3 separate regions of the Homo sapiens genome follow, and all the other regions are linked to region 3. Evidence: fine-mapped expression QTL. A gene starts in region 3. Each other region holds a variant in brackets. All regions are shown on one strand. Distances are between the middles of the regions. Region 1 overlaps DCBLD1 (discoidin, CUB and LCCL domain containing 1). Region 2 overlaps GOPC (golgi associated PDZ and coiled-coil motif containing). Region 3 holds the start of GOPC (golgi associated PDZ and coiled-coil motif containing).

The links. PIP is the estimated chance that this variant, and not a neighbour inherited with it, causes the effect.
Region 1: its variant is fine-mapped to the expression of GOPC in whole blood (INTERVAL, PIP 0.99).
Region 2: its variant is fine-mapped to the expression of GOPC in skeletal muscle (GTEx, PIP above 0.99). The same link has a PIP of 0.9 or more in esophagus muscle and tibial artery.

The regions. Positions count from the first base shown.
Region 1 is chr6:117,510,374-117,521,391 of GRCh38, forward strand. It overlaps DCBLD1 (discoidin, CUB and LCCL domain containing 1), which reads left to right. Exons shown (of 15, transcript NM_001366458.2): 3 at 9,443-9,577. Among named protein-coding and RNA genes, the nearest start is that of DCBLD1, 33 kb to the left of the region's middle. The variant C/T (reference allele first, on the strand shown) is at 4,713.
Region 2 is chr6:117,572,653-117,583,670 of GRCh38, forward strand. GOPC (golgi associated PDZ and coiled-coil motif containing) reads right to left here. Exons shown (of 9, transcript NM_020399.4): 2 at 6,248-6,412; 3 at 4,796-4,819; 4 at 2,525-2,700; 5 at 815-980. Among named protein-coding and RNA genes, the nearest start is that of GOPC, 24 kb to the right of the region's middle. The variant C/CACAT (reference allele first, on the strand shown) is at 4,377.
Region 3 is chr6:117,597,246-117,608,263 of GRCh38, forward strand. It overlaps GOPC (golgi associated PDZ and coiled-coil motif containing), which reads right to left and starts at 5,266. Exons shown (of 9, transcript NM_020399.4): 1 at 4,759-5,266. The coding sequence starts at 5,043. It also overlaps the pseudogene NEPNP. RefSeq lists enhancers at 5,148-5,237, 5,368-5,657.

The DNA.
Region 1 (11,018 bases), 87 kb before region 3:
CACACACACGTAAAAGTAAACCCTTCAAGTTTCAAATTCAGGGCTGCCTACCCTAGAACCTTCTCTGATGTTCATCAGTTTGTCCCTTTTCTGTGCTCATGTTCTCTTTCTAAAGTTTCAGTAGAGCATCAGTTTCGGGTTGGGATAATTATTTTAGCTTCTCTGTCAGATACGGGATGCCCTGAGCCAGGAATTACGTTTTATTCATGCTCTTTTATTCACCTAATATTTAGCATCGTCTTACAATTGCAGATGTTCAGTCAGTGTTTTAGGACTGAGATTATAAGTAGCTTGATTTTGGCAAACATATTAAAAAATCTGGATTTTTACAAAAGAGAAATTGGAGTGTCATTATTCACACTGTAGGGAAATTTACACTAAGATTCCTCTATAAACATTCCCTCTGCATTTAAAGAAAGCTTTGGTTTACATAAAATTTTAAAACTATGCTTATTATGTGGAAAAGACCATGTAATAATGTGGAAGGTGCCTGTGAGTGAGCATTCAACTATGTGCGATGCACTGGGCTTAGTAAACCTTAGCGTTACTACCTCATTTAACCCTTATAACAGCCCTGTGAGATAGGTCCTGTTACCAACCTTTACACCTAAGGAAACTGAAGCTCAAAGAAGGCCAACTAACATGCTTGTAAGATCACTTAGCGGGACCTGGGATTCAAGTCTGGGCATTTGAGGCCCTGCTCAAATGCCCAGAGGCCCTACTCTTTAGCTCTGCACCATCCGATTCAGTGTTTGTGTTGAAAGCCATCTGTTCCTGTGGCTTGTGCATAAGAAGACCTGAGGTGTAGTTCTTGTTCGTCACTTGCTGGAAGAAATGGAAACTTCTCCAGGCCTCTCCACAGGAGTATCCGGAGAATAAAGTGGGAGTCTGAGAAATCACTTACGTAGAGTTCCAGTATAAGTTGAAAGTTCAAAAAATGTTTTTTAGTCAAAATGCTAAGAGGAGGCATGGTGGCCAGTGATAGAAAGAAACTCTTTACTATAGGATCCTAATGGAAGTTAAATTGGTTGTGTTCTGCATAATGATTTGCACCAGGAAGTTCAAAAATTGTTCTCCTACGTTTTCTGTACCTCCACTTCCAATCACAATATTTTTTTAAGCATTGTCAGTGACTTAGAAGCACAATCATGTGAAGTCAACTGTTAATGTTTATGTTACACTAGGAATGAGAGAAATAGGAATAGTTGGAAATAATGCGAAGTGGTTAGACTCATAATCACAACAGGTTTCTGCATGTCATTTTTTAGAATGATACATATCTGACATATTGCAATAAGATCTAATAATTACAACTTATCTGTTGAAGTTTTTTAAATCCCAAAGAGGGGAAAGCGCAAGATTGACAGTCTCTGTTTTACAAATGGTTTATATGTCTCTCAGACATATTATGAAGTAGAAGGAAAAATTTTTATGGCTTTTAAAGATAAAACAAATAGACTTCAAGGAAATTTCCAGCTCACAGAGAGCTGTTTTGGGCTGCAGACACCCTAGAAGTGCGTCCTCCTCTATGGTTGAGGCTACTTTGGTGGAAATTATTGAGAAGGACTGCTTTTTCTTTGTTTGTTTTATTTTGCCTTTTATGCCAAGATAGAATTCAGAAAGAATCTTGAACATATAAAACGTTATATCAGCCAGAATGCTGTACTCTAGGTATTTTTTTTAACACAACCATAAGCCTCAAGGAGAAAAAGCTATTGGGTTCCTCCTCCTCTTTCCCCATAAATACTTCCCTGGAGACTCACTGTGATTCAGTTTCAGTAATTGCCATCTTTCATTGGGAGAGAAGTAATGGCTTAAGTGGGTTGTGAACTCCCAGCGTTGACACACTTCTTGACCTGGGTCCTGTAGCCCCAAGGAAAGCCACACCTTTGTCTAAGAATCCGCCTGCTTCATTTATCATCTGTCACTGATTTTTGTGTGGGAATGAGAGACCAAAATTCTCCAGGGATACCACTTACTGTTACGTGACTATGGTTTTAATGGCACAGTCCAGGAATATCCCTTTTTTATGCTAATTTCTCTCCTTTTCAAAGAAAATGGCCTTGAAAATTCTGTAATGTTGTACAATGACCCTACTGCAATTAGCAAGCAAGGACAAATCTGCGATTTGACTGCATCAAAAACAAATTGAAAATGGACACAAATCTAATGGTGTTTGCAGCTTCAGCATTTCTGGAGATTGTTTTATCAGCATACCTCTGAGCACAGATCTGGGCCACGAGAAGTACCACTCGCCTGGCAGCCAAATATTCCATGTGGCTGTCTCCACCCACATGTACTCCCAGGGAGGGTCACTTAGGTCAATCAGGCATGTTCTTATCTGTCATAAGAAAGAATTGTGTGCTTCAGATGATGCTCCAGAAGGTTAATGAGGGTTTTTTGGAGGTTTTATGTTGTTGTTGTTGTCGATTTATGACAGACCTTTCAGGAGTTAGGTTTTTATTTGATCTCTCAGTGGTTTTTCCCACTGACAGTATGGTAGTTAAAAAAAAAATCAGAAATAATACTACTAAGGGAAAGAGGTTTCTTTGTTTCTCTAATGACATGCATACTATTTTTCAAACATGTCCCTTCTATATATAAAACAATAACTTAGTTTTATTAGTTTTAAGATCAAAACCTTATATCCATCTGAAGTGACTTGGAACAAACAGTTTTTAACCAAACCATCATTGCCTTGTAATGCCCAGAGTCTTGGGCACACAGTCCAGGAGAATAGAGAAGTACTATACATTGCTGTACAGATTGTCAGATTGCCAGAGAATCAAGAGGATTTCAGACTTGGCTTGTAGCAGACAGTTTATTCTTCCTTATAGGACAGCTTTCTTTTATTCACACATGGAAAGATAAAGGGTTTCCCTTGCAGCTGCTAATGAAATAGTAGCCCGAAACAGGGAATGTGCTGAGAGGAACTGACCTACTGTGCTCAAAGAAGGCAACTCCTACAGTTCCTGGCCCTTTATTCCCTTTGTCCAAGGAATCAGCCCATTGTCTGCTGGAGTCTCATGTCTGGTGCCAAATGCCACAGTGCTGTTCCATTTGGTATCTCTGATAGCTCTTCCCACAATATAGGGCCGCCAGTTACATTCCACAAAAGATAAAAGTTTTTCTTTTTTCCTGATTTTTCTGCCTACTTGATTAACTGCTGCACTCCAGTGTGATGGGAATTTGTGACTGCAAAGTAAGATGGAACCTGCCTTGCAGACAGGGATAGATAGAAGTGAGAGAATAGTAGGAAGTTAGGTGGCAAGTCCAAGTGCTATAAAACACGTAGCACTGCTGGTTCTGAAGCAAACATCCATGCAAAACTGTGCATCCTATTTTTAGGAAGGGGTTGGATTTCAGTCTGACTGAATTGAAGTATTTTTGCCAATCTAAGAACACTGCCTGAGCCCAAGAATATAACCACAATCAAAGTTAGAAGTCACCGCGCTCTCATGTGGGTTTCCAGTGAAATTGTCTTTGTAAACATTTAAATATAGGTGTAGATCCTTTTTAAAAGTCAGGAGACCTTTGGAGAGTACCAACAGTGAAGTATATCACGTGGGCAGGGGTGAGTGGAGAAAGATTTTCTTTCATAAGACAAGAGATTATCCTTAAAGGAGTCTGGCGGAGCACTGAGGACATTGCTTAGGACAGACTCCCAGGGTCTTTCCGTGGTTTCCCATTAATTATTTTTCCCTCTCAATGCTATCATATTTTTCCATTTTTCTTTCTTGCCTTTTAACTCTAGGAATGTAATTATTAACTTCTAGTCTATGAAAGGAATTTTCGTCTGTCAGACCTTGAGACAGGCAATAATTTGGATGTTTTGCCATAGGCAATACTACAGCCAGTATTCAACTCTTATCCCCCACCCTGAATTAAAACTCATTCTTGCTATTCTGATGTTTGTGATTATGATGAAATGATCAAAATAACTCTTCAGACCAGGCGCTGTGGCCCATGTTTGTAATCCCAGCACTTTGAGGAGGCTGAGATGGGAGGATTGCTTAAAGCCAGGAGCTTGAGACCAACCTGGGCAATGTAGTGAGACCTCATCTCTACAAAAAAAATCAAAAAATTAGCTGGACATGGTGGCACACACCTGTAATCCAGCTTCTTGGAAGGCTGAGGTGGAAGGATTGTTTGAGCCCAGGAGGAGCCGTGATCACGCCACTGCACTCCAACATGGGTGACAGAGAAAGACCCTGTCTCAAAAAAAAAAAAAAAAATCCTCTCAATGATGATATTTATATAGAGAGGGTATCTCCTACCCCTCTAGTTACAATTTTGCAGCACAGTAATAAAAATATGAAAGGGATTGATGTCTGTGTGGTAAGGGTAATTAAAGGGGCATGTGTTTACATTTTCCTTCTTTGATCTGCTTCCAGAAATAGTTACATGCCTATCATAACTGGGAGGATGAAACCAAATTAGAGTTTTACTATATTTACATGTTTTTGGTCTAGGAAATCATATATATTGCACAACAACTTAGTATGATGGTATACACTCTCATTTGTGTAAAATATGTATACTTTTTGCAACTTTTCCTTTCAACTGTTTCATAAAATCTAAAAAAAAAAATCTAAGCAAGTTCTCACTGATAATCAATTTAGACTTGCTTACCTTACAGTTTGTGGGTTTTTTTTTTTTTTTTTGAGACGGAGTCTTGTTCTATCACCCAGGCTGAAATGCAGTGGTGGGAT[C/T]GTGGCTCACTGCAACCTCCACCCCCCAGGTTCAAGCAATTCTCCTGTCTCAGCCTCCCAAGTAGCTGGGATTACAGGCACCCACCACCATGCTCGGCTAATTTTTTTTGTATTTTTAGTAAAGATGGGGTTTCACCATGTTGACCAGGCTAGTCTCGAACTCCTGACCTCCTGACTCCGCTCACCTTGGCCTCCCACAGTGCTGGGATTACAGGCGTGAGCCACCGTGCCTGGCCACCTACAGTTTTCATTAGAACTCATTGGAATGCTATAGAAATTTAAGGAGAGATTACTATCATCATCACCATTTGGGGAGGGGTGTATTACTGGGTTAATATAAAAAAATGTGATTTGAAAATATTCTAACTTATTAAAAGCAACAAGTTACTAGTTACTTCACAATATTCATCCTTAGGTTTACAAAGCAAGTGTCTTCACCCCTCTTATCTGTGCAAAGAACAGAGGAATTTCAAACATATCTAAAACAAACAGAATAAGTTGGAAAAGGCAAGTACAGCAATCTGACTCACCTTAACTTTGCAAAAATGCTTATCATTCTACTTATTTAGTCTGAATTGCCTATCTGCTGTGCTTGTGAGCAAGAGTAAAGTTTATAAAAATCCATATTATTCATTACAGAAATTTTTTTCTTGTTTCTTTACACTTCTCTTCCTGACTTCTCCATAGTATTTAAAAGTGACACGATTAAAAATATTTTATGAATCTCTTAGTTGGATTTGGCTTTTAGAAACTGTTGTAAAAAGAGCATTTCAATTCAATTCAAACTGTTTGTGGGAGGCTGTCACCTGCCAGGTACTATGCAGTCTGTTGGAGATAAAGGGATGGATATAAAAGTTCCTTGCACTATGGAACACAGTCTGAAGAGAAAATAGGTATTACTTATTTTTTAATATATTCATTTTTAACAAGCACTTATATAGCTCTTACTATGTGCTGAGTACTATTCTAAGTAATTTGAAAGTATTGGTCGGGCGCGGTGGCTCACACCTGTAATCCCAGCACTTTCGGAGGCTGAGGCGGGCAGATCACGAGGTCCGGAGATCGAGACTATACTGGCTAACACAGTGAAACCCCATCTCTACTAAAAAAAAAAAAATACAAAAAATTAGCCAGGCGTGGTGGTGGGTGCCTGTAGTCCCAGCTACTCAGGAGGCTGAGACAGGAGAATGGTGTGAACCCAGGAGATGGAGCTTGTAGTGAGCCGAGATCATGCCACTGCACTCCAGCCTGGGGACAGAGCGAGACTCCATCTCAAAAAAAAAAAAAAGAAAGTATTAACTCATGTAAGTAATTACGTATGATGAGTGTTTCTAAAGAGGGAAGTGAACATCTTTTATTTAGATTTCACCATAATTTAGTGATAGGAAATGCTAGAAATTTGGCATGTGAGGGTAAGCATATAGCATTTCTTTCTTATTCTATCACATCTTCAGTATGTGAAACTTGAAACAGAGAGAAATTGGATCCTTTATACCAGAAGGGCAATGCTTAGTTGGGTCACGATCTTCTGACTCTTTAGCATGTGTATTGGTCCATTTTCATGCTGCTGATAAGGACATACCTGAGACTGGGCAATTTACAAAAGGTTTAATTGGACTTACAGTTCCACGTAGCTGGGGAAGCCTCAAATCATGGTGGAAGGCAAAAGGCACGTCTCACCTGGTGGCAGACAGGAGAAAAGAGCTTGTGCAGGGGAACTCCTTTTTTTAAAACCATCAGATCTCATGAGACTTATTCACTATCATGGGAACAGCATGGGAAAGACCTTCCTCCATGATTTAGTTACCTCCCACCGGGTCCCTCCCACAACACGTGGGAATTCAAGATGAGATTTGGGTGGGGACACCCAAACCATTATCATTTCGACCCTGGCCCCTCCCAAGTCTCATGTCCTCATATTTCAAAATCAATCATGCCTTCCCAACAGTCCCCCAAAGTCTTAACTCATTTCAGCATTAACTTAAAAGTCCACAGTCCAAATCTCATCTGAGACAAGGCAAGTCCCTTCTGCCTATGAGCCTGTAAAATCAAAAGCAAGTTAATTACTTCCTAGATACAATGTGGGTACTGGCATTGGGTAAATACAGCCATTCCAAATGGGGAGAAATTAGCCAAACAAAGGGGCTCAGGCCCCATGAAAGTCTGAAATCCAGTGGGGCAGTCAAATCTTAAAGCTCCAAAATGATCTCCTTTGACTCCATGTCTCACATGCAGGTCATGCTGATGCAAGAGGTGAGTTCCCATGCTTGGGCAGCTCCACCCCTGTGGCTTTGCAGGGTACAGCCTCCCTCCCCACTGCTTCCACAGGCTGGTGTTGAGTGTCTGTCGCTTTTTCAGGTGCAATGGATCTACCATTCTGGGGTCTGGTGGCCCCCTTCTCACAGCTACACTGGATGGTACCCCAGTAGGTACTCTGTGTGGGGGCTCTGACCCCACATTTCCCTTCTGCACTACCCAAGCAGAGGTTCTCTATGAGGGCCTCTGCAGCAAACATCTGCCTGGGCATCCAGACATTTCCATACGTCTTCTGAAATCTAGGTGGAGGTTCCCAAACCCCAATTCTTGACTTCCATGCACCTGCAGGCTCAACACCACATGGAAGCTGCCAAAGCTTGGGGCTTGCACCCTCTGAAGTCCTGGCCCGAGTTCTACGTTGTCCCCTTCCAGCCATAGCTGGAGCAGCTGGGACACAAGACACCAAGTTCCTAGGCTGCACACAGCACAGGGATGCTAGTCCTGGCCCAGGAAACCACTTTTTCCTCCTAGGCCTCTGGGTCTGTGATGGGAAGGGTTGCCTTGAAGACCTCTGACATGCCCTGGAGACATTTTCCACATTGTCTTGGGGATTAACATTCAGTTCTTCATTACTTATGTAAATTTCTGCAGCTGGCTTGAATTTCTCCTCAGAAAATGGGATTTTCTTTTCTATCGCACTGTCAGGCTGCAAATTTTCTGAACTTTTATGCTCTGCTTCCCTTATAAAACTGAATGCCTTTAACAGTACCCAAGTTACCTCGTGAATGCTTTCCTATTTAGAAATGTTTTCCACGTGATACCCTAAATCATCTCTCTCAAGTTCAAAGTTCCACAAATCTCTAAGGCAAGGGCAAAATGCCACCAGTCTCTTTGCTCAAACATAACAAGAGTCACCTTTGCTCCAGTTCCCAACCAGTTCTTCATTTCCATCTGAGACCACCTCAGCGTGGACATTATTGTCCATATCGCTATCAGCATTTTGGGCAAAACCATTCAACAAACCTCTAGGAAGTTCCAAACTTTCCCACATTTTCCTGTCTTCTTAGCCCTCCAAACTGTTCCAACCTCTGCCTGTTACCCAGTTCCAAAGTCACTTCCACATCTTCGGGTATCTTTTCAGCAGCACCCCACTCTACTGGCACCAACTTAACTGTATTAGTCCGTTTTCATGCTGCTGATAAGGACATACCTGAGACTGGGCAATTTACAAGAGAAAGGTTTAATTGGACTTACAGTCCCACATGGCTAGGAAAGCCTCAAATCATGGTAGAAGGCAAAAGACATGTCTCATATGGTGGCAGACAAAAGAAATGAGCTCGTGCAGGGGAACTCCTTTTTTAAAAAACCATCAGATCTCATGAGACTTATTCACTGTCATGAGAACAGCACGGGAAACACCTTCCCCCATGATTCAGTTACCTCCCACCAGGTCCCTCCCACAACACATGGGAATTCAAGATGAGATTTAGGTGGGGACACAGCAAAACCATATCAAGCAGTTTTGTCCCTATTGGTTCTGGTTAATATAACCCGGTTTTATTCGTATTGACTTGGAGCAGTCTTTTTCTTTTATTCTTCTTCCTTCATCATGATTGTTGTTGCCGCTGACTATTTCCATACTGTTTTTGAGAAAAGTTAATAAATAATACCTCTCTTCAAAATTTGCTTGCTAATCTCTATTTCATAGAGATTGTCTTGCGTATGTTACTTTCGAAATGACAAGTTAAAAGCTAAACTTCAGTTTGAGTAGTCTTAGGAAGAGTTTTCGTTATTTTAAGCTCCAAATGTAATTTTGCCCTTTGAAAGTTCATTGAGATCCCTATTGCTTTTCAAGCAACTTATTTTGGAAACAATGTTATACCCTTAATTGTATAATTTTGTACTATAATATTTCAAAATGCTTTAGAAATTATTCTGCTTTTATGTACATTTTATAAATCAAAATGAATTTTGGGGATTAACCAGAAGTTACTGTAAAGGAAAATCAGTGTGTATGCTGCATGTGAATGCTGCATGTGAATAAAATTCTTACCATGCTTTGCAAAGTCTTTTAACTTTAAAACTTCCCCGAAAAAATGATTTTTTTAGTTTATTTGAGCAAATTTAGGAGGCCCCTAGAATAACATTTTTGTAATAAAATTTTCTTTACTACCTAATGTGTTTGACCTTTGTCTTCTTTTTACAAAAAACAAAACCTATCTCTTGGGTTGCTCACAGTTAACTAGTTCCAGCCTATTGCTTGTCTAGAGTAAGCCACTTTCCCCCTTGGCTTAGTTCACAATCAGTCAGAAATTATCAGTCTGAGCGTCAAGCTAAATTTCAGTTGGTAAAGATTATAATCATACATATGTATTGTCTAGTAAATTTGGCCTTTCAAGGAAAAAAATGCCATATACCAGTCATTTGTGCTGGTATAAATTTTGAAATGTGCCACAAGTGTGCTTTGTTTTTAGGTCCATACTGTGGAAGTATGACTGTTCCCAAAGAACTCTTGTTGAACACAAGTGAAGTAACCGTCCGCTTTGAGAGTGGATCCCACATTTCTGGCCGGGGTTTTTTGCTGACCTATGCGAGCAGCGACCATCCAGGTATAACGGAAGAATCAACACAAATCTCTAAATGTTATCTGTCTAAGAATTCCTCTTGCCACTTATCCCCATCCCTGGACATAATTGTGGACTCAGATGCAGAATTAAGATATGAGGGAGAAGAGGAACATGGTATCTTTGTAAATGGTTAGGTCTGAACTGAATCATATTGCAGCACAGGTGTGTCCAATCTTTTGGCTTCCCTGGGCCACATTAGAAGAAGAATTGTCTTGGGGCCACACATAAAATACACTAACAATAGCTGATGAGCTAAAAAAAATTTGCAAAAAATTTTTATAATTATGTTTTACGAAACTTTAGGAATTTGTGTTGGGCTGCATCCAAGGCCATCCTGGGCTGCATGTGGCCCAAGGGGCATGGGTTGGACAAGCTTATTAGCATGTTAGATTGATCAGTTGACTTATATGGGATAGGATTCATCTCATTTTTCCTAAAAACCTTGGATAACACACTTTTGTGTTCCCCTCCTGACCCTTCGAAGTCTTCACTATTCTCTGGAGCCCTCCCCCATCCTCCTCCCTAGCTCAGGGGCAACGCTTTTCACCAGTGAGCCCCTCCGCAACACACGCCAGTACACCAGCACGGGAGGCATGCACAGTGTGTGTAGGATGAGGAAGTCAGTGTCACACAGTGTAATAACTTTAAAGCTGAAAACTTGTATGGGAGAGAAGGGAAGGGAAACACGAACACTGATGAGAGAGAGAAGCACGGGCTCCTGTCCTGGGCTCTTGTGCTTCAGAGTAATTCTGTGCAGCCCATACCAAATCTGCCTATGGTCATAGAGGTTTCTGCTGTCAGTCCTCTCTGGCAGAAAAGCTCTGGGAGTGAGGTGCGCCATTCATTTTCCTCTTAGCCAATCAGCTCTGACTAATCACAGCAGATGCCTGCATTGCCAGTGTTCACCATATATTGCTCCCAAAGAACTATTACAGTAAGTGTGGAATATTTTGGAAACCATACTATGTTGATCTAAATGCATCAAGGTCCACTGTATCTTAGCCTCTATTGCTGAATATTAGTTTGGTTCTGTAAATTACTCCAGAGAGCACCTTCTTTTTTAAAATGCTTTGTCCTGGTTGATGAAAGCTTATATGCTGTAGGTTTTCTTGGTAAAGATGTGCTTCTCTGTCACCAGATGCCACTGGCTAAATTGTTGAATTAAAATGTTTGTGGGAACCTTCTCTGTGAACTGTGTTGGGCTTTTGAAATTATTTTCTTCCTGCCAGGGGACATTATACACATGGTCTTCATAGGCATATAGTGGATAGCAACTAAAGAGTATTGTTTTTTTCTGTTAACTACAGATTCTGCTATCATTTACTAGGTGATTGTGTTGAAAAACTGTCATTGGTGGCAGAAAAAAGAAACGAAAGGAACTCATTAAATACTGGAGACAGTGATTCTCAGTGTTTATTTTTAA
Region 2 (11,018 bases), 25 kb before region 3:
TTGTCTTCCTCCTAACCGCTCCATTTCCCAAATCTACTGGACCTAGAAGTTAATGGGAACCACCAGTGCCCTAGAAAACAATGGCATAAGTGCTTATCGCTATCCCCACTTCTCTTCCACCAACTCTATTTACATACCAATTCTTCTTACAAAAATCTTTGCAGAGCCAACAAACTATTTTACTATTTAAGGCCATACATTATCTGGTACTAAGATATGTGAACCCTTGGGAGACATGCTTTCATATATTAAGGTCTATATTATCAAGCAGCTGTTATGATAAAATTCAATAAAGATTTATCCAGATAGAAGCTTTTATATAATGGTGGCTACAGAAGCAGACAACTGGCTACAGATCTCAAATTCTATCTTAATCCAAGACCAAACAGGTGTAAATGTTAGTTCAGAATCTACATTTGGATTCAGTTACTAAAAGTTCCCTTAAAGAACTACCCCAAAATATCTGCCAAATTATCAATATGACCACACACTCTAAGCTAAGATTAAAACAAATTCAAGCATGCCCAATCATGATCCAGGAAAAACTGGAAATATGATCCAACATTATAGCAATATGCATTTGCTAACAATGGCTCACTGTCTGCAGCACTCTCAGGGCATTAGTAAGTCTGTGAAGAGCTACTAAAATTTCTATGGGTGTTGAAACTTCATCTACTTTGAATAAGTTGAATCCCATTTTCACTTTTAAATAAAGGTTTCAAACAATACTAGAATAAAGGAAAGAATGGAAAGCAACTGTGATTAAAGAAAGAAAGAAGAGGCTGGGTGGGAAGCAGCAGCAAAGCAAACATACATGGCCTGGTGGTGCTTGCATTGGTCGTTTCAAGTCATTACGTCCTCTGCAGGCTCGGATCACAGTTTTGTGACGATGCAAATGTATTTCAGCTTCTAATTGGTTCCAAAGCTTATCATGAGCAGGTCCCTTCATATCTCGTCCTAGCAATTGTATCTGTTGGACCCTTCATATTGGGAAAAGAGTACATTGATTTTTCATTATATTCACTACAGTGAGAATTCAGGAAAATTAGTGAACATAAGTAGCTTTTGCATGAATCTCAAATTAGTGATAAAACTAATACTCACGAACTTCTTGATGTCTCTCAGATATAAAAAAAATATGAAAACTCTGAAAAGAACAGGTATCCTCAAGGGAAAAACCAGTAAAAAAAATTTTTAAAGGAATTAATGTGAACTCCTTTAGTCATATACTTAATTCAAATAAATCTAAAAAAAAATTTATGAGATTAATGTCAATCTATGTCTTGCATGCAAAGTCACTGAACTCAGATACTATTAAATGTTAGCTTTTAGATGAGATAAATGGACAAAAATATTTCTTCTAATTAGAGTTTCTTTTCACAAAATGATTACTTTAAATGTGGTTAAAAGTTACTAGAACCAGCCAGGGCAACAAGGCAAAACCTTAACAATTAACCAGGCATGGTGGCATGCCTGTGGTCTCAGCTACTTGGAAGGCTGAGGTGGGAGGATCACTTGAGCCTGAAAGGTGGACGCTGCAGTGAGCCAACGTTGCACCACTGCACTCCATCCTGAGCGACAGAGTGAGACCCCATCTCACAAAATTTAAAAAAAAAAAAAAGTTACTAGAAAATTTGTACTTCAAGATGATATAAATTATTTTTTCTTTGTTCCATGTTTTTAATGTGACATTAAAAGAATATGCACAAAATGATTTAGTACTAATAAGTCACCAAAGTTTGTTAATAATTTACTTAATAAATACAGCAGAATTCTGTGTATGATTATGATAAAATCATTGTCATTAACTAAATACCAACACGTTTTTTTGAAGGGCAAGAAAGACTGGGTTTCAGTGATCATAAAAAGAATTCCTTATGGAAGTTCTGCTATGCATGTGAATATCGGCTGTACTGGTCTCAAGGCACAAAATAGTTGAAAAGTGCTGCTCTACAGAGTTGTTAGCATTTCACAGTAAGATACTATCAGTGTTTGTGTGTGTAAACTAAACATATTTAGTATGGATAACTAGATCTGCGATACATAATGCTGTCAGTATTAATTTAACAACAGTAAGTTAAAACCAACTGTAAAATAATTCTGAGGAAAAAGATTAATGCTTCATTTACCATAAGAAAAAAGAGTAGGCCAGGTGCGGTGGCTCACACCTGTAATCCCAGCACTTTGGGAGGCCAAGGTGGATGGATCACAAGGTCAGGAGTTTGAGACCAGCCTGGCCAACATGGTGAAACCCCATCTCTACTAAAAATACAAAATTTAGCTGGCCGTGGTGGCAGGCACCTGTAATCCCAGCTACTCAGGAGGCTGAGGTAGGAGAATCGCTTGAACCCAGGAGGCAGAGGTTGCAGTGAGCAGAGATCATGCCACTGCACTCCAGCCTGGGCAACAGAGCAAGACTCCATCTCAAAAAAATAAAAAATAAAAAAAGAAAGAAGTAAGAGTCAACCTCATTAAATATCCAATTTGTCACTTAAGAGTACAATAATACCCATTTTTTACACACCTTCCTGCCAGTTCCTTATCCAAGTACTTGGCAGCTAGTCTCGCCCCATATACTTCAGCCTGGAGAACAGCTATATGTCTACGAAGGGCTTCATTCTCTTTTCTCAACAATTTCACTTCAGCTTCAAGTTGTGCTTCTTTCATTTTTTCTTTTTTGTTTGCCTCAAGCTCTCTTTCCTATGTAATTTTTAAAAGCATATAATTTAATGAAAATAAAAACTCTTTAGCACTAGACCATGTTCCTGAAAATGCACAAAAGCCTACAGTTCAACAATGTATCATCTCTATAAAATGGAACACAAAGATCTGGATGTAGTTCTTTTGAACTAGTACCATAACATCTTGGAACTACTTCTAGATAAAATAATTGCACGCCATGGGTTACCCTGATATGGAGTATAGTAAGAAAAGTAGTCTACTCTAAGCTCATGTTATCACATATTAGTAAAAGTGGCTTCAATGGATAGTTGAATCTGCTATTTACTTCTAAAACCCTTTTGAGAGTTAAATAAGGACCCCAATAGACATTTTAACTGTTATTTATAGATCAAAAAAACCACGTAAACACTGAAAACTTGCATTTATCCTGAGCAGAACTGCTTTTACAGAATCCACAAATCCTATGAAAACATGGTTACATTTGTTCACAATATGTGGAAGACATTATTCCCTATACCCCCTTTGTCCCTTTTGTGAGGACGTAAATAAAAACCTACCTTAGCACCAGAGAAATTGTTTCTCTTGAGGAAATGATGAATAGTATTGTTTCTATTGTATGGGCACTGATTATTTTACATAATTATTTCCCTTTTTATTCTGGATATTGAGAAGCTAAGAAACAAATTTAAGCAAATTTTCAGCAATTCATGGAATATATTTTGGTACTAATTTAATGTGCCTCCTTTGGTCTACTGTTTTGAACAACATCAAAATAGATATATTTGAATACTAGTCAATAAATACGATAATCCTAAAAAAAATATATTTACATATACACACACACATACAAGCTAAAATTAATGACAACTACTAAATGCTAGATATATTTATCACTTCTTTGATTAAAAATATTTGTTATATATATGACAAACAGATGAAAGATTAGCAGACTCAATTTCTGGGAAAAAAAAGATTAGAACGTAATTTCTAGATACTGGTTTTAAAGGATTCGAAAAACTCAATCTAGAATCCTCCTTTTAACATAATTTTGGAATTATTAAACTCTTATTTCAGAACCTATGTCCTAAAAGGGCAAGTATCTGTTTCAAAAGAAACCAGTTTGGAGATACAAACAAAAATCTTTCTTATGACATGTTAAAGTTGATGCAACTTTTGAAAGAGCACTCCTAGACCAAGATTTCTTTGGCTTATGGGCTAAATAAACTTTATGTTGATGATTACCTACTTTCAATTACTTTAATGAGCTATTTATACTACATTAATGAAATGTGGGAGACATACTAAGCTACCACTCACTGGGGTTTTAATGATTCAAATCCCTAATGAATCTGACAAACTCTTGGGCCCGAAATTAACAGAGGTAAGCAAGAATAAGATGAAGGAAACTGAAGTTAACCATTTCTAGATTTCCAGAAAAAAATTTTCTTGGTTCTTAGTTAACCTGTTTGTTACTAGGTAACACCCAAGATGTTCATTTTACATTTAGATACCAAAGATTATATCTTCAAAAGAGGTAAAGCCATAAGACAAATTGGAACTTGATTAGGTTGGGGTAATGAGAAAAATATTAAAAATGTATTGTTATTTTCTAAAATAACTTCTGCTAAAGCATTTCAAAATTCAATTGTTTCAAAGGCCATACGATTATTCTCAAGACTCTTGAAAAGTTGTAA[C/CACAT]GCAGTAGATGAAGAAGAAACCAACATGCACATTCTTTTCTGGAAATAATTTCAAACAGAAACTTAAGGGGGTTAAAAACTAAGCCTGCTTGATATATCTTCAATACCCTGAAGTGGGAAAACCAATTGCTCTTTGAAGTAGAGGTATGAGCAAGCTACAAGGCTCAAAAATTGTCAAAAATTGACAGGCTCTGCAAATAATGGCTATAAATCACTAACAAAAGAAAAATGTTTAACAACATGCAGTGAGAAAAGAGCAATGGGCCATCCACTGAACTTTTCAGGTACTGGAACATTAAAAAATTGCCATTATTAATGCTATTTTCAAATACAATGAGTGACAACATATAATATGCAAATAAAACACTAAGAACACTTCAGCGTGACATATTAAAGCAAAACAGAAACAATATACTTACCAGCTCCTCCACAGAGGGGCCAGACTTCAGATATAAGAAAAAAGTTTTATAATTAGAAAAAGATCAAACAAATGATTTTATTTAGTGGTATAGTCATTATAAGGAAAAATCCCACATGTTGGATATCATTTGGGTAAAGTTCATTAGAACAAATATATTTGCAATCTATAAACAATAGTAACTGTAATAGCATTAGATTAAAACTTTTTGTTTTATCAAAATTAGTCAACATAACTGGTACAGTGTTCTTTTCATCATACTCTTTCAAATTCTAATGTTAAAACTTCAGGTAAATTCTTTTCTAGAGAAAATTTAGATTGTTTCTGAATGTTAATGTCAAATAGCTCGAAGAAGCAGTTATGAGCTTTTATTTCAGTTAAATAAAACCCTTCTAACACAGATTCACAGAGTTAGAAAACTTAAGAGTTTAACTTAAAATTATTTTCATGAATTTTAACACATCAGTACTAGGAACTAATTAACCAAATGAAATTAACTGAAAACAAATAAAACTTATAAATGTATTACTCTCATTATATCATCAACATCATTTCATGTCCTGCCTCTGCCAAGCAATAGCTGTCTTATTTATTGCTGTGTCCCATATAGGAACAAAATATCTGCTATCTCTTACACACTCAAAACATATGTGGTACACAGTGGCAGGAAAAATGCTTACAATATATTAAGAGCAAAAGAAAAGAATGTGCTACTGGTTGGTACCCAATTCCATTTCTTACTTCTTCCTTATTAACAGACTCCAGTTTTACTGGAAGTGGCCATATGGCCAATAGGAGACTGACATGCAGCTGGGGATGGTCAATGAAATGCTGGCAAAAATTACTGAGAAAGATTTAATAATAAGTTCTTTAAAGAAGGCTAACATCATGGAGAAGCATCTTTTTGCCCTTTCCTTAGATTAATCCTTCTTCCTGCCTGAAATGCAGACATGAAGAAATCCTGAGGATGGAAACCATAAGCTAAAAATGGCAGAGCACAGTGATGGAAGGAATCTGGATCTCTAATATTTGTGGAGCTGCCGTATCAACTCTAGACTGCCGGTCTCAGATTTCATTTCAGAGAAAAATAAGTACTGTTCAAGAATAATCCCAATGTTACTTGGGATTTCTGTTATATGCAACTGAATTTAATCCAACTGATACAGTAGGGCAAAAAAAAATCTTATATGTTATAATCACAAATATCTTTTAAACATATTTATACATATATTTTAAATAGGAAAAATTCTATCAGTTGATTGTTGATATCACTGATTATCTATAGGTGATGAGATTGTAGATTATCATAATGATCATAAACTTTATATTTCTTATATTTTCTAAATTTCCCACAATAAGCACATATATTTTATAATTTAAAAGTCTCATTCAAAATTGTCCTGTACACCCTGTAAAATACATGCAAGGGCATGTCACTCTCTAAACTACTTACCAATTTTGCCTTAATGGTACCAGAGTCAGCACTTTGACCAGTTTTAGCATGAAGCTGCAGCTGAATAGAGTGCAGCTGTAAAAGCTGATCATGTACTTCTTTCTCCAAAACAACTTTCTCTGCTTGGGTTTCTGTCAGTTCAGATTTCAGATCCACCAACTGTGCCTTATAAAGAAAACAATAGAAGAAATTAAGGATGCTTAATTTTCTTTCTTTTGACTAATAATTGTTATTCAAGAATGACAACAGAGAGACTACCTTTGAAATAAATACACAAACATTAGAATAATATTATCCAAGATACAAGACATCCATCTAAACTGACAGAAAATCAATAGTATAAGTCAGATATTTCGGTAGCAAGAGAAATCCACTATAAGCTGTATCTTCTAATAACACAGAATGCTACTTCCATTTTACTTTGCTTACTTTAAGAAACCTTTTTACTGTTTCACCTTTATCTTCAAAGCTTATGAAAACACAAAACTATGAGGTGGTTCACCATGTGGTAGAGACAATGTGTGCTGTGGTGGATCACTAACATTAACAGTATTAGAGAAGATGTCAGTAAGTGAGTTGTGTTCTGTCTTCAATCCAACGAATACTAGCCCAAATCATCCCAATCATTATCTAGTAAAGTTATTTTAGGTGCTAAGGTATCAACTTCTGAGACTATGGTAAGCCTAAAGATCAGAGTTAACTGTAAGTCTTCAGCTTTAGCATAGCAGAGCAACTCATCAGGACCACTTACCAATTCAGTCTGAAGTTTTCATTTTTGTACAATTGATACATTGTTTTACAATTGTGCACAGGATGTGTCCCTTGTGTTTTTGGTTTTCCCAGCTAGCCAGTAGATTAAAGATCAAGACATGCCTTTGTTTCCTATTCAACTCAACATAATTTTGCTAAGCATCTAAGGGCCCAGAACTATGCCAGCACAATGAGAAAAAAAATTGTAGATAATATTTTTAAAAATCATAGATCATAATTTATGCCCTTGACAAGCTTTCATATCAACTGGGTTGATAAATACACATGTGGACCAACTAAAATAATGTGGCAAGTTATATACAGAGAGAGAACTGACCCAGTCCCAAGGAATTCAAACTAAAGGAAGGCTTAAAGAAGGGAAGTAAGAAAAAGATTCATACTGAAAGTGAGTTTAGAAGGGCTTTGAAGGAAAACAACAACATGGACAAAATAGAAGCAGTAATGAAATATAGACATGGGAAGACTAGCAAAGGCAAAGTGGCAGAGAGACTAAAAGCCTCTCTGAGCATAGATAGGGATCAGATAATTGGGATATGTCTCTATATCCCAACTGCACCAACCAGTGCCTAGTGCATAAAAGATGCTCAAATTTAAGTATCTGTAAAGTTGAAATAAATTCTAATACTAGCCCTGTGATTCTCAATAAAACATTCTGTCTCAAGTTCCCTCAGTTTAAAACAGTGATAATATCCATGGCTTTGACTATTCTCATAAGATTATTAATCTTATATACAAAAGAACTTATTAGACTAGGAAAATGTTATTATCGAGGAGACTAAACTACCTCAAGGGATGGTATACTGACAGACTGGATATGACCCGATAGGAGAAATGAAGCTGAATACAATGAATGGCTTTGGATGATAAACTAAAACTGATATTCAATCTAACAGGAAATCATTCTATGCCCTAAGTGACATTTTTTGTTTTTATTTTTAATAACACCTTTATTGAGATATAATTCAATATCATAAAATTCACTCTTTTAAAGTAAATAATATAGTGGTTTTTAGTATATTCATGAAGTTGTACAACCATAGTTACTACATAATTTTGAAGCATTTTCTCTCAATGGCATTTTAGCAACACTATTAAGGAAATGAAGACAAGGACACAGTAGCAACGTCCTATTTGTAGCTTATCAAATGACATGTTATCATGGTAACTTTGTAAATGAAAATAAAGGATTTTACAATGCTGAAAAGAAATCGTTAGCAATACTTAGTTACAGTGTATCTAGTACAGTGGATGTGCAATGGAAGATTAGGTCAAGAATAATGCAAGTATTTCCAGTTTTGAGAATAATGAAGCCATTGATGGAAACAGTAAGATTAGGATGACAGCTTATATAGACATGAGAGAAAGAAAAAGATAAATTTAAGTTTTAGGCATGCTGATTTTGTGTCAACCATGATATAATCAACAGGAAATATTCCACAGAATGTAGGAAATAAAGAAAATAAATAAGTGAAAAGGTAGGATCTGGATTAACACTAGGAGCACAGAGATGTGAATTCATATCCTATGAGTTACAGGGAGAACAGAGTATCAAGGTCTGGGATGGCCCAAGAGGTAGAAGAAAAGAAGTAGCATGCTATAAATTAACCAAGATGTGGCATAATATAAATAGTGGGCTGCCTCTTGCTTTTTTACTTCCTGGAGATCACTCCCTATTAATAAAACTTCTTCATTCCTTTTTTTTAAATAACTTTTTAATTCATATATAAACATATCAGGGAAGTACACAAGTAACACATTACAAAAAATACCTATTTAACTATCACTCAGATCTTGAAAAAAAAAAAAAGGGCAGTGCTAGCACCCCAGGATCCTTCTTTTGACCCGCTCCAATCACTACCTCCACCTTCATCCACAAAGGTAACCATCAGAGTATACACTGACTTCTAACACCATAAATAGTTTTGCCTATTTTTGAATGTTTGAGTATGCTTATAAGATTTGTTCATAGCTTGTTTTGCATAGCTGCACTTCATTTTCAGCAATATTGTATTCACTAAATAAATATATAACATTACTATTTTTCATTCATTCTACTTTCCCTCAACTTAATTCTACTTCTCATTCTATTTCATTCTACTTTGGATGGGCATTTGTGTTGTTTTGAATTTCTGACTATTAAAATGATGTTGCTATGAATCTATCTTTTGATACATATTGCATATATTTCTCTTGAGTATATATCTAGGAGGGAAGCTTCTGGGTTACAGAGTATGTACGTTAGACTTCAGGAGAAAAGGTCACTTTTCCAAGTGATTGTAGCAACTGACATACCCACCATGTATAAGAACTTTGAGAGCATCATATCCTTGCCTTCACTTGGCATTGTCAGTATTTTTCATTTTAGCAATTCTGGTAGGGATGCAGTGGTATATTGTTGTGGTTTTAATTAAAATTTCCTCATTGCTAATAAGGTTTAACTGCCTTTTCATATGTTTATTGACCATTTGAATACCCTCTTTTGTGAAGTACCTGTGTTAGTCTCTTGCCTATTTTTCTAGAGAGTTGTCCATATTTTTCTTGGTGGTTTGTAAGTTCTCTCTCTCTCTCTCACTCTCTCCCTCCCTCCCTCTGCCTCCCCCCCTACACACACACACACACACACACACACACACACACACATTGATAGAGGCAGGAGGCAGAGAAATTCTAGGCAGATGGGGGTGTGTCCTCGGCAAAACCCCATCTTCAAGCCTAAAAGCTGAAGCCCAAAGTGAGAACTTCCATCCCTGTGTGCCCACTCTCTCCCGACTGGTTCTTTCTGAAAAAGGTCTTTTTACCAATCAAATGTTGTTTTTTCTAAAACTACCTATGGCCTGCCCTGCCCCCCATCCTGTGCCAGTAAAGACCCCAGACTCAGCCAGTAGAGAGGAGAAGCAGCTGGACTTCGGGCACAGGCATCATGACTTCAGAGATGGTAGCTGGACATCGGAGAGAGGCAACTTGACTTCAGGGGAGAGTGACATGCCCTTCCCATCCCCTTTCCAGCTCCCCTCTCTGCTGAGAGCCACTTTCATCACTCAATAAAATTCTCTGCATTCACCATCCTTCAATTCATGGATGAAGGATGGTCAATGCAGAGAATTTTATTGAGTGAATGAAAGTGGCTCTCAGCATGAATTCACATTACCTCATTCTTCGTGGGCACCAGACAAGAATTCGGGACCCACCAAGTGCAGGTACCCAAAAAGGCTATCACACTGGCCCTCTGCCCTTACTGGTGGAGGGCAGCTGCCCCCAAAAAGGCAAAAGGTGCAGTGAGCTGATAATACACTTCTGTCCAGCAGAGCTAAGAGAACCTTGTAACATGCCCTCTGGAGCCTTGGGATCGCAGGCACCCAGACCTGGATGCTGCCACAGGGCCTGCATGGAGTTTGCTCCTGCAGGTACTAAAGCAGCTGGCCAGTTCCTACACCTGCTTGCCTACACACTCCCTCCCATGAGGGGTGGAGTGCAGCAGACCCAAGTGAACCAAGTTTGCTCCTGCCAGTGCCAAAGCAGCCAGCCAGTTCTCATACTCGTTTGCTCGTGTGCTCCCACCTGCCAGGAGTTGAGCAGGGTGGGCTGAGTAAACAGGGCACCCCTGTCGTGAGTACCATGAAGGTGTCAAGAAAATATCCTGCATCAATATGAACTCCTTTATTGGGTGTGAGTTACAAATACCTTCTCCCATCCTGTGGCTTCTTTTCACTTTATAAATGTGTATTTCAATGAACAGAGTGCTTAATTTTAATGCAGCTCATTACGTTAATAGTTTCCTCCCCAACACTAAATGCTTTTTTGGCATGAGTTCTACCTTATCTGGTATCAAGTTTGCAACTCCTGTCTCATTTTGTTTGCAATTTACTCAGTATAATTTTGTCTGATCTTTTGTTTTTAGCCTTTCATCCTATTTGTCATGTTATATTTGTATATAACATAATACACATGTAAAGTCGTCATCGCTCTCTTTGGTGGCTTTAAAAATGTACCTTTTTTTAAT
Region 3 (11,018 bases):
ATTTTGCTGAATTCATTTACCAGTTCTAGGAGCTTTATGGATGAATCCTTAGGGCTTTGTAGGTATACTATCATGTCATCAGCAAACAGCAACAGTCTGACTTCCTCTTTAACCATTTGGATGTCCTTTATTTCTTTCTCTTGTCTGATTGCTCTGGCTAGGACTTCTAGTACTACATTGAATAGAAGTGGTGAAGGGGGGCACATTCTTCAGATAAAAAGTTTCTCTTTTTTCTTCCACAGTGCCACTACTATTCCAATCAATGCCTATGATTCTAGCATAGCCATGATCAAGTGGCTCATGACAGCAAAAACTCACAAGCATGTGGAAAGTGTGAGAGATGTGAGCAATTTGAAATGGCACCACCTCAAAATACACTGATATTCTCTGCTATTCCATTCTCCTCAGATATGACTCTTCCCAAATATTGCTATGGCAAAAAGCAGTCACATGGATATCATTTGTATTTAATTTTAAGATGTAATCTATGTTCTCAAAAAACTAAAAATAGAACATATACACTAGGGATATATGCCCCCTAAAAAGGAAATCAGTATCTTGAACAATATGTGCACTCCCATGTTTATTGCAACACTATTCACAATAGCCAAGATACGGAAGCAATCTATATTTCCACAACAGATGAAAAGATTAAAAAAAAAAAAGTGGTATATATACACAAAGGAATACTACTTAGCCATAAAAAAGAATGAAATCCTGCATTGAAGACCACATGGATGAGCTTGGAGGACATTAAGTAAAAATAAGCAAGGCACAGAAAGATACATAATGCATGTTCTCACTCAAATGTAGAAGCTAAAAAAATTGATTTACCAGGCATGGTGGCCCATACCTGTAATACCAGCATTTCGAGAGGTTGAGGCAGGAGGATCTCTTGAGCCCATGAGTTCAAGACCAGCCTAAGCAACATAGTAAAACCCCATCTCTACTAAAAAAAAAAAAAAATAAAATAGAAAAATTAGCTGAGTATAGTAGCTCATGCCTGTAGTCCAAGCTACTTGGGAGGCTGAAGCAGAGGGATCAACTGAGCTGGGAGTTGGAGGCCACAGTGAGCTATGATTGCACCACTGCACTCCAGCCTGGGTAACAGAGTGAGGCCCTGTCTCAAAAAAAGAAAAAAAAAAGTTGACCTCATAGAAGTAGAGAATACAACAGTGGTTACTGTTAAGTTGGGAAGGGTGAGGCGGGTAGGAAGATGTTGGTTAACACAGCGGTCACCAATGTTTTTGGCATCAGGGACTGGTTTTGTGGAAGACAATTTTTCCACAGGACAGCGTGGGGATGGTTTCAACAAAAGACATTAGACTCTCACAAGAAGCTGGCAACCCAGATACCTCGCATGTGCAGTTCACAACAGGAACAGGATTTGTGCTACTATGAGAATCTATATGAGAATCTAGTGCCACCACTGATTTGACAGGAGCCAGAGGTCAGGCTGTAATGCTCTCTTGCCCACTGCTCACCTCCTGCTGTTCAGCCAGTTCCTAAGAAGCCACGGACCAGTACTGGTCCACAGCCCGGGGTAACAAAATTATGGCTAAATAAGAGGAAAAAGTTCTAGTATTCTATAGCACCATAAGATGATTACAGTTAATAGTAGCTTAATGTATATTTTCAAACAGCTAGAAGAGCAGGTTTTGAATTGTTTCTAACATGAATAATGTTTGAGGTGACAGATATGCTAATTACCCTAATTTCATCATTATTATGTGTATCCAAATACCACACTGTGCCCCCTAAAAAGATGCGACTATTATGTCAATTAAAAATAAAAAAGAATAGCCCTAATAGCCTATTCAAGTAAAAAAGTAACCTATGATTTTTTTGCAGCAAAATTTAATATTTTAATAATAAATATAGTGTTTAATGTTAACTACATTATAAATTACCCAAATTGGAGGTATCTGTTTCTTCATTATATAAAAATATTTTATTACAGTAATATGATTAAAGGTATTAACCTCTGAAACCACTGAATGTCACGTTTGTCATATTAAACCATAAGTGGTTTCAAATATGTCTTAATGTCCATATAATTAAAACAATAGAACAAATTCAATCCTTTTCCTAAAAAGTAAAAAAGGGCAAGAAAATATGGAAATTGTTTCAAGCTTTCAAACAATATATGGAGCAACCACTGAAATTCTGTAGATGGAACAGCAGCAAGTCTACTTTGAAAGGCACTGCTGACAATGAACTTCTTTCCACAGCAATACACAATTGATTCCATAAAAACGGCAGAAGCTGCTAAACGTGTACAGATTAACATCAAAGACAAACAAGTTGACTGTAACTGAAAAAACACAAACAAATGAACAAACAAACCAAAATCATTAGGATTTTTCCCCTCCCCATTTTCCTATGATCTTTAAATCAACAGTTTCAAGCATAAAAAATATGCTCACATTGTGATATGCTAGCATTTCCTATTTTGAGAAACAATGCAACCTCCTAAACCAGGACATAAAGTCAGAATGTGTGATTTTAATTTCTGAAAAAAGAACATGCATAATTTATTACAATTCTGAATACTCATCTAAAATATTTAAAGACAAAAAAAATGGAGCACAGCCTCCTACTGAGAAAATTATCCTTCCTCCCAATTTCAATTTTTATATCTGACATCAAATCCCTGTTTAAAGTTTCCTTAGGTCATTTTAAAAATAAATAAAATATTGTTTCATTTTTAAAAAGTTGTTAATGCCCAGTTGATACTGCAGTTGTAAATGATATGAAATTTCTCGTGTGATGTTTTAGTCCACTTTCTGTTTCTTATAACAGAATACCAGAAACTAGGTAATTTATAAAGAAAAGGAATGTATTTCTTACAGTTATGGAGACAGAGAAGTCCAAGGTCGAGGGGCCAGATCTCGAGAAGTCGAGAGCCTTCTTGCTGGCAGGGGATCTGTGCAGAGTATGGAGGCAGCATAGGGTGTCACATGGCAAGGAGGCTGAGCATGCTAACATGCTTACTCAGGTCTTTCTTCCTCTTCTTATAAACCACCAGTTCTACACTCCTATGATAACTCATTCATCCATTTATCCAATAACAAATCAATCTATAAGTGGATTAATCCATTCATAAGAACAGAGTACTCATGATCCAGTCTCCTCTTAAAGGCCCCACATTGGAGATTCAATACTGTCACATTGAGGATTAAGTTTCCCATACACGAAATTTGGGGGACACATTCGAATTATACCATGTGGTAAAGGCTACTCTTGATCTTTGTTGTTTAAAGCTAGAGAACTAATGGCCAGGCACAGTAGCTCATGTCTGTAATCAAAGCACTTTGGGAGGCCAAGGCAGGAGGATCACCTGAGGCCAGGAATTCAAGACCAAACTGGGCAACAAAGCACTCCATCTCTTTTTTGAAAAAAATATAATAAGATAAAATAAGATGAAATAAAGTTAAAGTACTATTTCTAGAAAACATTAAATGCAATTTCACTATCTGAGAAAAATAGCTTTCTTGTGGAAATTACTACCAATAAAGAAATCAAGAGATGTTTTCATTTACCTACAGTAAGAAGTGATTACCTTCATATTAGCACTTTCTAATCTTTTCAAAAAGGATAGAAGAAATTAACAGTTCTCGCAGTGGAGAAGAGCCACAATTCTTGGATATGTAAATCTATGTTAATCAAAGATTAATTATGCCACATATTTCATGGCTAATAGGAGAGAAAGAATGCTGACCACTAGGCAAGGAGAGGATGTTTAACTGACATTCATATTGATATAGATATAATGGGCACTGTCAATGACAACGAGTAATGATGATTTCTTAGGAAAGCATGTTCAGAGTTTTGCACATCACTGATTATCCCATTTTTATCTATTACACTTTTTGAAAAGAAAGACCCATTCTCTTAAATTGCCTAGTTAGAAAGTACTCTTTATGCAATAATGTTAATCTATCTTGATTTCTAAATATTTTAATAATGTCCTTTTTAAATTTTCTGCACAATATGATATTTTTGTTTTTTTGAACCACAGCCACTCCACCCTCACCCACACCCAGGATCAGAGATTAAAGCAAATGATTCTTTACACTCTCTCAAAAATAAATCCAGACTTTGGAAAATTACACAGTAATGTACAAGCATATAAAAACTCAAGGTCAGAAGTAATTTCAATAATTGCAGGGAGCTCTCTGGAGGTATCTGCCTGTAATTTAACAACCAACTATGGATGTAAACCGAGACAGTGATACTATCGTTATGCACCACGAAATTTTCCTAAGAGCTTTGATCAGATTCCCCTAAATAGTTTATGCATGTCTCTGTATGCAATCATAGGCGCTGACCTGGAATAATTAAAATGAAAATAATCAGTGCTGTATCTGTCTTAACATATACAAATTCGGTTTATCAATGTGAAAGCAGATCTGCAAAACTCAGTTGTCAAAAGGTGGCCTACGGTATTTTCATGACAGAGAATCTTTGTTAGGTTTGTTAATGTAACATGTGCAATGGAGGCTGGTGTATGTAATTAGTTTCCTCCTCAGAGAGATACTAGGAAGGTGGACGACAGTACCCCGGGAACTCACACGTCGGTCTAGGGCCCTTTTTGTCCCCCACCCTCACCTCACTCCTCAGACATGCACTCTCCCATCACATTTGAAGCCCCGGTGGGCAGTTTTCTAGGGTCGTTTCACTGGAGCGTTAAATGGCATCTGACGCCACCGGGCAGCCTGGGGTTGGATGCCATAGCCGCCAGCACCCACGGCTCACCTCCAGCTTGTGGTTGATTTGAGACACAGACTGGGCTTTGTGGCAAAGCTGTGCAAAGCAGGAGCTCAGGCTGGTCATCTTCTGTCGCCCCTCATAAGTGATGTCCGCTTGGTCTGGATCGATCTCTCCCAGGAGCAGATCCACATCCACAAAAGCTTTGTCGAACTCCTTCTCCAGCACCTCCAGCCACCGGAACATGGATACCCCGCCAGGGGCCCCCACGGAGCAGGAGGCGCCCCCTGGGCCCCCTCCGGCTGCTGCTGGGCATGGACCGCCCGCCGACATGGCGCCGTCAAGGGCCTCTCCCGACTGCTGAAGACCCTCGCCGCCCCCCGCGCACGAAGGGAACTGCTGGGACTGAGGGGACCCCCGCGCGCGCGGGCACACTCCGTCACCTCCCTTCACCTCGCGCCGTTAACGCCAGCAGCACAGTCACAGAACCGCAGGAGTAACGAGGCTGAAGCTGAGGCGGCAACGGCGGCGACACACGGAAGACTCAGTCAGTCCCACCTCCCAGCCTGCCCCCGCTGCGCATGCGTAGCGAAGAGCTGGGCGGACGCAGCCACGAGGGACAAAATAGGCGGGGACAGGATGCGATCTTGGCCTATGAAAGGCCTCAGCTTGGGAGCGGCCTGTCAGCGGCCATATTAACAACTGGCAAACTACGGCTTGAATCCCTGAGAAACGGAGGCGCGTGGTTTCTGCACCCTGGTTGGAAAGGCCCGAGGATGAGAAAGGTGTCCACGTCGCAGAAAGGAAGGATTTCCGCCGGTTTGACTTAACAGTTGGCGGGAGCCGTTCCAAAATCCTCCCAGAAAGTTGCTGCGGTGGCATCTAGGGTCAGGGAGGGGAGAGCAAGGAAGGGCGGTGTGAGCATGCGCAATAGCCACGTTTTTACCTTCTCGATTCCAGTTCCTGGATAGGATGGAGTGGGTGTACACACTGGCTGTTCTTGGTAAACCAGACCCCAAATTCCAGGTGTGGACTGCCTAAAGCTGCGCATTGAAGCGGCTGACCAGATTTTGCGGAATTAATAGAAGACTTTTTGTCTTGTGATTAAGAGTCAGGTAGACCTGGATTCAATTCTTACCCTCTGTCACATACTACCTGTGTCGCCTTTCATGTATTAACCTCGAAACCAAGTTTCCAAATTTTACTTAACTCAGTTGTAAGGTAAAACGCTTAGCGTCACTTCTTGGCACACGGTATTCCTCTTAATACACCATAGGTCACACATTTCAAAAGCAACTACAGTAGTGCTTCACTTAAGATGGGGATATGTTCTTAGGAATGTGTCCTTAGGTTAATCATCCCTTAGGGAACATCCTAGAGTGTATTTAAACACAAACCTAGATAGTATAGCCTACTACACACCCAGGCTATATGATGTAGCCTATTGCTCTTAGGCTGTAAACCTGTACAGCATGTTGCCATTCTGGATACGGTAGGCGATTATAACACAGTGGTAACTATTTGTGTACTTAAACATATCTAAACATAGAAAAGGTACAGTCATATACTCTTATAGGATCACCATAGTTTATGCGATCCATTCATTGCTGAAGCCTTGTTATTTGGCACATAACTGTACTTTAAAAGGTGTATTTATTTGAAAACTGGTAGTGTCCTCACACGTGACATTTCAGAAAATCAAAATTGTGAATTCATATATTTACAAATATATTGAATGCAGAGCTCTGTTGCGACATTGAAGACACAAAAATGAATGAGACATGACCCTTACTCAAGATAGGCTAGTGAGGCTACTACCCCTCAACTATAACTTTAACTTGAATTTTTCAGTGCCTTTAAAAGTATCCAGCAACTCCTCTCTTTACATTCTGCCTACTTCCAGTTCAAGGGTAGACAGTCCTAGAAAGGGAAAGAGAAACCTGTGTGATTAGAGTAGGCTGGTGGAAACTCCTGCATTACCTAGAAGCATATTTAGCTGAGTGCAGTCTGCTGTTATCTGTTCTTGGGGCAGACCCTTACGGTTAATCACAACCCAAAGCCTGCATTGTGTGCCCTTCGCTGATGCAAGGCAACTGAGGAGCAAGAAATCACAATTTTATTATTGCAGTCTTTGTACTGCATGGCAGACTGGTTAGCATGAAGCAATAAAGTCCTTTGGCTTGAGCAAACTTAGCTAATCAAAATGGATCATGAGATCCTGACCTTAGACTTAAGTAGGGACCTTCATACAGGTTTTAGTACACAATAAATAATGTAAAACTAAAATTTACATCTTTCCCCATTCCCTTCCAAAATTAGCTTTATTTTCATCTACAATATTTGCAAAAACATTGCTACAGCTATCAAGCTCCCAGCCACTTTATCTACACATAATACAGTTAGCAATGCATTTTCAGGAACGCGAAGTAAATAATTTAAAATTAGCAGGGCAGGGGGAGAATACATCGAACCACAATTATAATAGCTTTCAATTATTGAGTCCTTACTATGTGTTAGGCATTATGCTATTTTCTTTAATTCTTTGATCCTTACAAAATCCTATGAGGTAGGTATGATCACGTCTTTTATTGTTGTTGTTGAGACAGGATCTTGCTCTGTCGCCCATGCTGCAGTGCAGTGGCACGATCACAGCTCACTGCAGCCTCACTTTGTTGACCAGGCTGGTCTGGAACTCCTGGACTCAAACAATCCTCCTGCTTAGGCCTCCAAAAGTGCTGGGATTACAGGTGTGAGCCACCACACCCAGTAATCACTTTTTAACAGCTAAAGTCACAGACAGCTTAAGTGTCTTGGTAAGGTCACAAAACTAGAAAGAGATTGAGGTAGTATATCAATCTAGGTGTCTTTTTCTCCTAAGTTGTTGCTGTTAACCATGTAATACAGAAGAATGAAGGAATCTATTTCTTCTTGTAAAAGTTAGCAGTATAATAAACTAGCAAGTAAGTTCCAAAAGTTCTTTTTAATTTCTTCCTAGTTAGAAACCATATACAAATCTATTAACATATAAGAACCATTACCAAAAATTGTAATAACTCATTTTCTATTACTTGTAACTCTAATTTATATGAACCACACTTGAGTATAAATTTCATTTCTTTAAAAAATCAACTTCCAGCTACATTGTGTGGGTGCAGCTGAGTGACATTTTAAGTGTTTATATGTTTCCAGTGCTCTAATGGTTTGTGGGTACCCCCATTTTCGAGATTGCAGAACCCAGCTTCGTATCTATTACCTTTACAACTTCAACAAGTCATAGACTCATCTGTGTCTCAGACGAGTTTCATGTCATGTTGTCCCTTCTCATTACTGTAGTATGTAGACATAATCTTTTGCCCACCTGGATTGAGGTTATGCAAATCTGCAAGTCACAGCAGAACATGGATGTGAAAAGGAGGGCTTATCATCGGGGCTTGATGTTCAAGTGCTGCCATCTGTTGTCGGTGTACTCTATCTACACTTACTGCCTTATCCTTACCTACTCTGGAATTGGAGATTGCATGTAATGTCAATACTTGAGCGATTTGTTTTTCCACAGATATTAAAGTCTTGATACTTCTATTTGCAGTTGGATTGGCAGAAGCTTCCAATAACTGTTTTATGAATCATGCTTATGTGATTTTTAAAAAATATAACTTAAATGTGACACTCTTGTTTTAGGAACTTATCCCTACAGAGTTTTGTCACAAGGCATTACTAAAAATAAATTGGTTGGAGACTGAGGAAATTGGGGAAAGAGAGATGATGCTAAGGGTTTCTTTGATAGGTACTGGTAATTAACTGCGGGGTCAGTGTATAGTTTAAATATTTATGGAGCATCATTGATTGCAAGGGCACTGTAATAAAAGGGTGTATAAGACCCACCTTGGACTGGAGAGGGAGATTATCACTTATTGAACTCTACTGTGTTCCAGGCCCTGTACCTAACTTCACGTGTTTCATTTAGTTTCCAGTAACCCTACCAAGAGAAGGGGTTAAGTATATGCTGTTAGTGGCTATAACAAGTTGTATGTATGGTGAATGAAGAAAGTAAAAATCCACTAGCATTTTATTTAATCAATGTAGGAAAGGTTTGGAGTGTTGTATTCATACATATTATTTATATTTATTGAATTTATTATTCATATTACCAACAGTTTTGAAAATTTCAGATACATATGCTAAAGAAGTAAGTTTAGGAATCCAAAGGGATTTATTAGCCTTATTCTCCTGATTATTTCCCTTATATAAACAAAGGGATCTGGGTGTGGCGGTGTGCACCTGTAGTCACAACTACTTGAGAGGCTGAGGTGGGAGGATTTCTTGAATCTAGGAGTTTGAGACCCTCCTGGGCAACATAATGAGATCATGTCTCAAAAACAAACAAAAAACAGGACAACTGTTTGCTCTCTTGTTTTTAAAACTTGAGAATTTTGGTACAGTGATTTAGAATTAGCTCAGACACCTCCTCTTCCAGGAAGCCTTCCTTCTTTCTCCTCATATGATGCTATGGGCTCCATCCCCAATTAGTTTCCTGTAAATATCTTTTACCGCATTTATCATATTATTTTGGAGCTTGTTAGACTGTGAGTTCCTTGGCAACAATAACTGTATCTTACTTATCTTTGTATCCCAGGTCCTAACACAGGACCTAGAATGTGGTAGGAATGCTATAACTATTTGTGTGATAACTTCAATAATTAAGGTATTCGATCATTCTACCTAGGAAACTAACAGTCACTTCACTTTTCAAGACATACTTGTGATACATGCTAGAGAGCATAGCTAAATATTAATATATTTTTATATTGCCTCAGAGATTAGGATATCTATAAATTACATATTAGTCTTTCTTTTCCAAACCTAAAGTTTTATTTTACAATGATCTGGCTTATTTGACTAATAAATCCATTATAATTTAGGCTTCAAGGATTCTTTTGCTTATTCCATTGTTAAAATTTACTAGATACTATGTTTTGTATAGTATATTCAACCTAAAACCAAAACATAATAAATTTTACACTATCAAAGACAGACTATAACTGCTTTTCCCCTTTTCCCCGATGTACATTCTTCATCTACCACTTCCCACAGCTCCAGGTTTGCTTCAGCCTTGTCTGAAACCACCATTTATCAACAGTAGTATCAGAGTTTCCTACTCATGTTTTCTTCTTCTTTTGTCCACTGTGAAGTCACTGTTTATTTCTCAAGTGTCAGACTGTATGGATCAAACATAGACTTTCCTTCATCACCTTCTGTTTTTTTTTTTATAAATTAGTCTACTAAGGGCCTCCGAAACAGTTGTATTCCAAATACCCTTCAACAATAATTATTTTTTCGAGTTTTGACTGAAAAGTATAAGTTATCTAATTAGAAATTTCAGCTGGGTGCCATGGCTCATGCCTGTAATCCCAGCACTTTGGGAGGTCGAGGCAGGCAGATCACCTGAGGTCAGGAGTTCGAGACCACCCTAGGCAACGTGGTGAAACCCCGTCTCTACTAAAAATACAAAAGTGAGCCAGGCGTGGTGGCACTCACCTGTAATCCCAGCTACTCAGGAGGCTGAGGCATGAGAATCACTTGAACCTGGGAGGCAGAGGTTGCAGGGAGCCGAGATTGCACCATTGCACTCCAGCCTGGGCAATGAGAGCGAAACTCCGTCTCAAAAAAAAGAAAAAAAAAAGGAAAAAGAAAAAGAAACTAAAAGTCAGAAAAGTGTAGTGAAACTATTACACAAAAAGCTCTATCACAACAATTGCTGGAGATAGTATTTGTTTTGTCCCCAGATGATTGTAACTCACTCAGAATTTGTTTGGCTTTTGTGGCCATGGTGAGCAGAGGGAGTTAGGATGAAAAGACTTCTATAGTGAAAATTTGTCACTACATGTGGGATACTCTCCATATTTGAGCTCCCTTCCTCTAGGGAATTTCCCATTTTATGTTACTTGGTGAGAGAGAGAATTCTTCTTCCATAATAAGCTGAAAATGTCAGATGATCACTTTCCTGACTCTGTGACAGGTAGAGCACAGGGCTGTGACCTAGACTCAGCTAACTAGAATTATCCACCTGAAATTTTTAACATGGAGATAGTGAGGCAGGATTGGGAGCATTCCTTTTGGTAGGGATTGGAGAGGGAGTGAAGATAGCAGTTTCAGCAGCAGCCATGCTAGTGTTGGTGTTGTGCTAGATTCAGGTTTGTGGTAGAGGCTGGTGCACTCGTGTTCTGTAGTGGCAGCAGGAATGGTGTCCTCACTCAACTGAGGTGCAATTTTGCAATTTTGCTTGTGATTCTGACTATGCAGCCTTCCTT